Regions from separate parts of the Homo sapiens genome. Here region 2 is linked to region 1. A link means that fine-mapping ties the variant in region 1 to the expression of a gene that starts in the linked region. Tissue or cell type: whole blood. Region 1 holds a variant in brackets; the other region holds the start of a gene. All regions are shown on one strand. Distances are between the middles of the regions.

Evidence for each region. PIP is the estimated chance that this variant, and not a neighbour inherited with it, causes the effect.
Region 2: CLYBL starts here. The variant in region 1 is fine-mapped to the expression of CLYBL in whole blood (INTERVAL, PIP above 0.99).

The regions. Positions count from the first base shown.
Region 1 is chr13:99,460,973-99,465,139 of GRCh38, reverse strand. No RefSeq gene overlaps it. Among named protein-coding and RNA genes, the nearest start is that of LNCARGI, 30 kb to the right of the region's middle. The variant TCCACCCATCCATCCAC/C (reference allele first, on the strand shown) is at 2,079.
Region 2 is chr13:99,604,627-99,608,793 of GRCh38, reverse strand. It overlaps CLYBL (citramalyl-CoA lyase), which reads right to left and starts at 2,104. Exons shown (of 9, transcript NM_206808.5): 1 at 2,037-2,104. The coding sequence starts at 2,098. LOC105370332 (a long non-coding RNA gene) reads left to right here and starts at 2,945. Exons shown (of 3, transcript XR_931674.3): 1 at 2,945-3,032. RefSeq lists a silencer at 1,764-2,323 and enhancers at 2,045-2,339, 2,262-3,241.

The DNA of each region.
Region 1 (4,167 bases):
AGAAGGGCTTATACAGACAGAATCTTCAGGTGGTATGACGACTTAGCTTCCCTGGCCTTTCTCCCCACTTCTGCCCATCGGTCATTACCTACCTCAGGACCCTCTAGTCATTATCGTGGAGAGGGGGACAAAGGAGGAAAATGCAGGTAGTTGAACCTGAGAGATGGTGCCAAATTGTCTTTTAATAACAGTTTTTTCTTCGAAACAACACAGAAATGCATGTCTGCACACAACAGGGACAGGATCCAGGAATTAGGAAGCCCCAACAAGAGTGCCAGGGGCACCCCAGAAAACCAGACACAAGGCTATGGCTGACCTTCTAACCTTCTCACTTCGTAAAAACAGAAGAGAACAAGTTCCTTCCTCAACTTGATACGTTAGCGTTTCTTGTAAATACATTTCCTGTGTCTAGTTCATCTTACTTTATAAACACAGACATCTGCTTTCAGTTTTGTTAAGAATGTGCTAAGAAATTCAGTTGAAAAACGCAATAAAGGATCCACAGAGGTCTGTCCTCACAGAACGAATCAGTGTTCAAACTAGTTCTGGAGGGAGACATTCAACATAGAGATGCCACAGGGCTACAAGCCAGCATTCCTGCTCGCTGAAGAAAGGCAACACTCGACACCCATGACCATCGATCCCATCTATTGGGGTGGAGGGTGGGGAATGCCTTCCATTACAGACTCAGTGTGACCTGTCTTCCCCGTCCTCCCATGAGGAGTCAGAGCCTTGGGAAGATGCCTGCAGAGTCATCACCACTGCATCCTCATCATGACCTGTATCTGTAGATTTTTCTCCCTTCAAGTACTATAATTTCCCACTGAACTCCGCTCTTTCTATTGGCTGACATACAGTATGTGCTTACTATGTGCTAGACATTGTACTAAGCAGTTTACATGGATTATTTCACTCTATGCTATTAGGGAAATAGTCTTATTGTGTCCATTTTACAGATGGAAAAACTGAGGCTGTCGATGGATGGATGGATGGATGGATGGATAGATAGATAGATGAATGGTGGGTAAAGCTGAGATACAAACCCAGTCTTAACCATTAAAACTGCCTTTATGAATAATAATGTAAGACAAAATAAATTTGAACTTCTTTAATTCAAGTCTACTGATCGATAGTGATAAGTATAAAATAATAATCATATCAAACACTTATAACAATCTTATAAGATAGGAGCCATAATCATAACTGTTTTACAGAAATGCCTAAAGTATTACTGGCCCTTTCAATGAAACCACATGCAGAAGAAGGAGAAACATACACAGACACACAGGCACACAGAACAGAAGCAGTCACATGTGCATTTGGAGCTGGATGCAGAAGTATACTTACAGGCAGAAGCAGATTGCCTTAGGTTGAGCTGTTGTAACAAAATACCATAGACTGGAAGGTGTTAACCAGGTGGATAGATTATCCCTCTATCCATAGATGGCTTAAGGAACAGACATTCATTTCTCATAGTTCTGTAGCCTGGGAAGGTGCCAGCAGATCTGCTTCTTTTGAGAGCTCTTTCCTGGCTTGTAGACAGCCACCTTCCTGCTGCTGTGTGCTCACATGGCCCTTCCTTGGTTTATGTAAATGGGAAGAGAGAAAGCTCTGGTGCCCCCACTTATTATAAGGGCACTAATTTCACCATGTGGCTCCCATCCTTGTGGCCTAATCTAGGCCTAATTACCTCTGAAAAGTTCCACCTCCAAATGTCATCATATTGTGGGGTAGGGCATCAACATATACATTTTGTGGGGGATACAAACATTTAGCCCATAACATAGATCTTATGCGGAAATCACAGAGGGATAGCTACACACAGAAAGTGGATCCTAATCATCCATCCATCAATCCACCCTTCTATCCATTGATTCATATGGTCACTTACTTACCCACACATCTATCCATCCATCCATCCATCCATCCATCCATCCATCCATCCATCCATCCACCCATCCACCCATCCATCCACCCACCCATCCATCCACCCATCCATCCACCCATCCATCCACCCATCCATCCACCCATCCATCCACCCATCCATCCATCCATCCATCCATCCACCCATCCATCCA[TCCACCCATCCATCCAC/C]CCATCCATCCATCCATGCAATTAATGTTTGTTTGTTGTGCATCGCCCTGAAGCCAGCGAGACCACGAACCCACTGGGAGGAACGAACAACTCCAGACGCGCCGCCTTAAGAGCTGTAACACTCACCGCGAAGGTCTGCAGCTTCACTCCTGAAGCCAGCGAGACCACGAACCCACCAGAAGGAAGAAACTCCGAACACATCTGAACATCAGAAGGAACAAACTCTGGACACGCTGCCTTTAAGAACTGTAACACTCACCACGAGGGTCCGTGGCTTCGTTCTTGAAGTCAGTGAGACCAAGAACCCATCAATTCTGGACACGGCATGATCTCAGCTCACTGCAACCTCTGCTTCCTGGGCTCAAGCAATTCCCCTGCCCCAGCCTCCTGAGTAGCTAGGATTACAGGTGTGTGCCACCATGCCCAGCTAATTTTTGTATTTTTAGTAGAGACGGGGGTTTCACCATGTTGGTCAGGCTGGTCTCGAACTCCTGACCTCATGATCTGCCCACCTCGGCCTCCCAAAGCGCTGGGATTACAGGCATAAGCCACCTTTCACTACATATTCTGAAAGCTTAAACACCTGAGAGAACTCAGAAAGAAAACGCACATGGATTGAGAACAGCATTAAGTTCTTTCCCAATAAGTTATTTCCCAATTTATCTGCATTTGTCTGAGTAAAGAAATACATTTCTAGTTGCAAAGTGAAATTATAAGCAGGTTCTTTCCCTTCAAAATGATTTTTCATCCTTCCAAGAGCCAGTGGGAAAATATGGGAAGAATTCATTTCCAAACAAGGCAGTTAAAGGTTACAACTTCTAACCATCAGGAGCCAAAGCCTGCTCATGCATGCTGATGGTGGACAGGGATTCAGGGGTCCTCAGGGAACTCATGTCCCCCCTCCTCTGGTCAGTGGAGGATCATTGCATTGACCAGCGAACCTCAGCAGTTTCAATGTAGCAATGCAGATGTCCATGGGCTGTGCTGCTGAGATGGCCTTTGGGTCTTCCCTCTTATGAGAGGGCTGAGTGTGGCCCTTATCCTTCTAAAGAGAGGTCTACAAAGCAGCGGGGCTGGGGTTACAAATTCATAGAGAATAGGCAGACAACTATGGGCTGGAGATGTCCAGGAAAAAATATCCACTGGCCATTTAAAATACTAAGCCAGGAGCCAATCACATATTTATATTAAAAATAGCAAGCTGCCCAAATCCAAATGATTTATTGCAATCAAGTTGCAACAGCAGACTTCCTACCTGGAGATATCAAATACTTAGTGGGTTATTTAAGTAACCAAAGCAAAAAAGTCTCATTACAAACAGGTATTTATTATGTGGACAAAGGGGTATTGTCCTTGCACTCTCTTATTAAAATACTCTTCAGTGAAATAGTTATCATTAATCCCATATCATAGATGAATAAACTGAGGTTCAGTAAGTTAAGAAGTTTACTCAGTTGTTTTAAACATTTGTCAAATCAGATGACTCCCTTCTCTGAAATAGGCCTATTTTTTTTCTCTCTCTCTCATGGAAAGATTTAAATTACACATAAATTGGGAGAATATACAAGAACTCTCCACGTACCCATCACGCAGGCATAACAAGCATCAAGTCATGGGTCTCTCTCTGTCACCCAGGCTGGAGTGTAGTGGCGTGATCATGGCTCATTGTAGCTTTGACCTCCTGGGCTCAAGCAAGACTCTTGCATCAGTATCCCAAATAGCTGAGACTACAGGCACATGCCACCATGCCCAGCTAAGTTTTGTAATTTTTGTAGAGACAGGGTTTTTTCATGTTCCCAGGCTGGTCTCAAACTTCTGGGCTCAAGCAATTCTCCCACTGTATTAGTCCATTTTCATACTGCTATAAAGAACTGCCCGAGACTGGGGAATGTATAAAGGAAAGAGCTTTAATTGACTCACAGTTCAGCATGGCTGGGGAGGCCTCAGGAAACTTACAATCATGACAGAAGGTGAAGGGGAAGCAGGCACCTTTTTCACAAGGCAGCAGGAAGGAGAAGTGCTGAGCGAAGGGGAAACAGCCCTCTAAAATGCCCTCAGATCTTGTGAGAACTC
Region 2 (4,167 bases), 140 kb before region 1:
ATAATGGAGGCAAAAAGACAGTGCGATAATACGCTTTAAAATGCTCAAAGGAAAAAAAATGCCAATCAAGAATCCTATATTCAGCGGGTAGACATGTCGAGAACAGACCAGTGTGCTAAGGCGGGTGAGGAGCACTGAGTTAACCCCCAGCGTACTGGCGTGGGGACTGTGTGCGCTCACTGGACCCGCTACTGAACAGGTCACAGACGCTGGCCCCCTCAAAAGGCGCCAGAAAAGGACCCTTCTGGACCAGCCTGGATACACTGCCTGAGCTGCTCCTCTAGGGCGAGGGGTGACTCCCCTGTGCCAGGGGCAGCGGAGGAAATGGGAAAGTGGGATGCATAAGACTAGGTGGGTCCTCCCATAGGACATGGGTGACTGAAGAGTCACAGTGCAAGAAGACGTAAGAAGTTCAGACCCAGGCCGGGCACGGTGGCTCACGCCTTTAATCCCAACACTTTGGGAGGCCGAGGCAGGTGGATCACCCGAGGTCAGGAGCTCCAGACCAGCCTGGCCAACATGGTGAAACCTCGTCTCTATTAAAAATACAAAAATTAGCCGGGCATGGTGGCGGACGCCCTGTAATCCCAACTACTCCGGAGGCTGCGGCAGGAGAATCACTTGAATCCGGGAGGCGGAGGTTGCAGTCAGCTGAGATGGCGCCATTGCACTCCAGCCTGGGCGACAAAAGCGAAACTCCATCTCGGAAAAAAAAAAAAAAAAAAAAAAAAAGAAGTTCCAGACCACCAGGCCGGCCATGGTGGCTCACGCCTGTAATCCCAGCACTTTGGGAGGCTGATCCGGGTGGACCCCCTTGAGGTCAGGAGTTCGAGAACAGCCTGGCCAACATGGCGAAACTCTGTCTCTACTAAAAATACAAAAATTAGCCAGGGGTGGTGGTGCACACCTGTAATGCCAGCCACTCAGGAGGCTGAGGCATGAGAATCGCTTGAACCCAGGAGGTGGAGGTTGCAGTAAGCCGAGATTACACCACTGTACTACAGCCTAGGTGACAGACCGAGACTCTGTCTCAAAAAATAAAAATAAATAAATAAAGAAGTTCCAGACCAGGAGCCATACACTTAGTGTTTGAACCAAACTCTCTCATTACTGGTCATAGGGCTTTGAGAATCCTTAACCTTTCTGACCCTGTTTTTTCATCTTTATAAACATGACACCCAACTTCTTCACATGGTGGTCAAGGGAACCAAATGAGACCATGTATGTGCACGTACCTAGGCGATGGGCAAGTGCTAGACCAGCGGTTCTCAAAGTGTGGTCCAAAGACACCTGAGGGGGTCCCTGAGACCCGTTGAGAGGGTCTGCTTGGTCCTCCCTTTCCCAACTAATATCTGCATCTGCATGAGCCCAGAATTTCTTTCAAATATTTCCTTCAAAACAGCTGATATGAGACTCCAGCTGTCCTTTATTAAACCAAAGAAATTTTCAAAAATATAAAAACCATGAGCCAATCTTCTCACTTTTTTTTTGAGAAGTTATGCATTAAAGTGTTATTTGTATTAAAAGTTAATGGGTTTGTTATTAAGTGAATATTTTTTAAATTTCTGGTTTAATTCCTCATGCACAAAAATCAATAGATATAAGCAAAAGCTTTGGGGGGTCCTCAAATTATTTTTAGACGTGTAAACGGGTCCTGAGACCAAACCGTTTGGGAACCGCTGTGTTAAACGAACCGCAGGTGTTCTTCACCAGGCAAGCCGCCTCTCAAAGACTGGCGCGTTCACGTTTGCCATTTGGGGGAGGCAGGCAGTTTTGTTTCCTGGGGCTGAGTCCAGGTAATTCGACCTAAGGTGTGTACCCATTTTCCGGGTGCAACGAGGGCCCTCCCAAAGGGAGGCGCGGGCGGCAGCGACCTTGGACGAGGTCGAGCCAGCGCGTGGGAGGCGCATGGTGCTTCCGTCCGGCTGGGTTCCCGTGAGGGCTTGGGGAGGCCGCGCCCGGCCCGCGGGGCTGCAACAGGAGCCGACCCGCGGCGAGCCGGGCCGGGAAGGCGGGGAACGGGGACCTGCACTCACAGCCTCAGCAGCGCCGCCGCCGCAGCTCCGCGCGCCGCCCTCCGCAGCAGACGTAGCGCCATCTTCCCGACGCGCGCGCCCCGCCCTTTGCCTTTAGCCACGCCCACCCCACATTCCACGCCCCCACGGCGACACCGACCCCCCCCCCGTCCCAGGCCCCGCCTCGCTCTGTCTTCGCCCCGCCCCGTCCCGCCAGCCACACCCCGCCAGCCACGCCCTCCTTCCTCCCAGCACCCGCTCCGCCCCGCGGCGAGTCCCGAGGTCAACTGCCCTCCCGGCCAGGGCTTAGGACCTTCGTCCCCGCTGTCATGGGGGACAGAGCAGAGGATCTGAATGGTTGGGGCCTCTTTGAGGGGCCTCTCTGGTGACCGAATCCAACTCTCTGAGCTTCTGAGTTTTTGAGGCAACTGTTGACAGACTGCGTTTTCCCAGCCAGAAGAGCCAACATTTCTAGGGATTTCTTCGCAGCTTTTGTTGTTAAAATACCGCCTAATACTTTGTGAGCCCCATCATGTGCATATCTTGGTTAGCAATTAATCTAGAGTGGTCAAAGTGCAGGAAGGCTGCATCCTGGAACACACATGCCTGCAATAGGTCAGAGCAGCTGTTGGCACTCTCTGGGCAGGGAAACTGACAGCAGCTCTTTACTCTGCCCCCTGCAGCCGTTCTGCAGCGGTGAGAACGCCGAGGCGTTAAAACAGGCTGGGCCCTGCCCCTGCCTCTTCTTTCACCTTCCCTGATCCAGCCGGCCTCCACCTGCCGACCTTCACCTACCCGGGCCCATGTTACCCCTTAACCATGTCTTTTCCTTGGCACTCGGCATGTTTCTTTTTCAGCTGTGACTCCGTTCCATTCATGCTCTAGACTTAAACCTGAAACCGTTTCTCAGAACCTTCCAGTGGAAGCTGACTTGTGCTCTTGGATGCAAAAAGTGGCCGTTTAAACAAACAAAAGCCTTTTCAGCCAGAGGGGGTTCCAAGATTTGGAAAAGTCCAGGTGACTGGGAACATGGATGCTAAACTTCTGCTGAGCCTAAGAATTATTGTTATATTCGATACCAACAGGGGAGACTGCTCAACCCCTTGGTGCCCTCCCCCAGCTCCCACGCCTGCTCCACCTCAGGCCTCGCCTGTCTACTCCAATTTGGTCACTTTCTTGTCACCACCTTAGTCCCAGCCAGTGCCCGGTCCAGCCATACTGAAGCCTGAGGCAAAGGCAATTTCAGTAACACCAATCCTGTCTTTAATTAAAATTTTGATATTTTGTTCATAATGGGATTTTTCCATTATCTTGGTTTTTAGTTTAGAATATTACTTTTTTTTTTTTTTTGAGACAGTCTTGCTCTGTCGCCCAGGCTGTAGTGCAGTGGCACGATCTCAGCTCACACACTGTAACCTCCACCTCCTAGGCTTGAGTGATTCTCACCCCTCAGCCTCCTGAGTAGCTGGGACTACAGGCAAGTGCCACCACTTCCAACTAATTGTTTTGTATTTTTAGTAGAGATAGGGTTTCACCATGTTGGCTAGGCTGGTCTCGAACTCGTGGCCTCAAGTGATCCATCCGCGTCAGCCTCCCAAAGTGCTGGGCTTACAGGCATGAGCCACCATGCCAGGCCAATATTACTTATCTTTTTTTTTTTTTTTTTTTCTGAGATGGAGTCTCGCTCTGTCGCCCAGGCTGGAGTGCAGTAATTACTGAGACTTCTCCTTAAATTTTGCATCCCAGGCTGGGGCTGCACTCACCTCACTCAAGTCTGATTCTGGACATCATCATCCTTTACCTGGATTATTTCAAAGCCTCCTTGCTCCCATTCTTCCCTCCTACAATCACCCGTTTGCCATAAAACCTGGCTGACCTTTTAAAAGCATGACGCAGCTCCTAGTTCCAGAGTTGACTTGCTGTGTGACTTTGGTCAAGTTTCTTAAGCTCTCTGTTTCCTCATCTATAAAATGGGGGTATAAATACCTCATCACCTCATAGGCTTGTTATAATGATAGACTGAGTTTACATATACATAGAGAGAGACTGCACACTTAAAATCTAAGCAAGTTCTCAGTAGTGTTAACTATTCCTCATTATTATTGTCATTGCATCGCTTCCCTTCTTAAAACCCTTTAGTGGCTTTAGAATA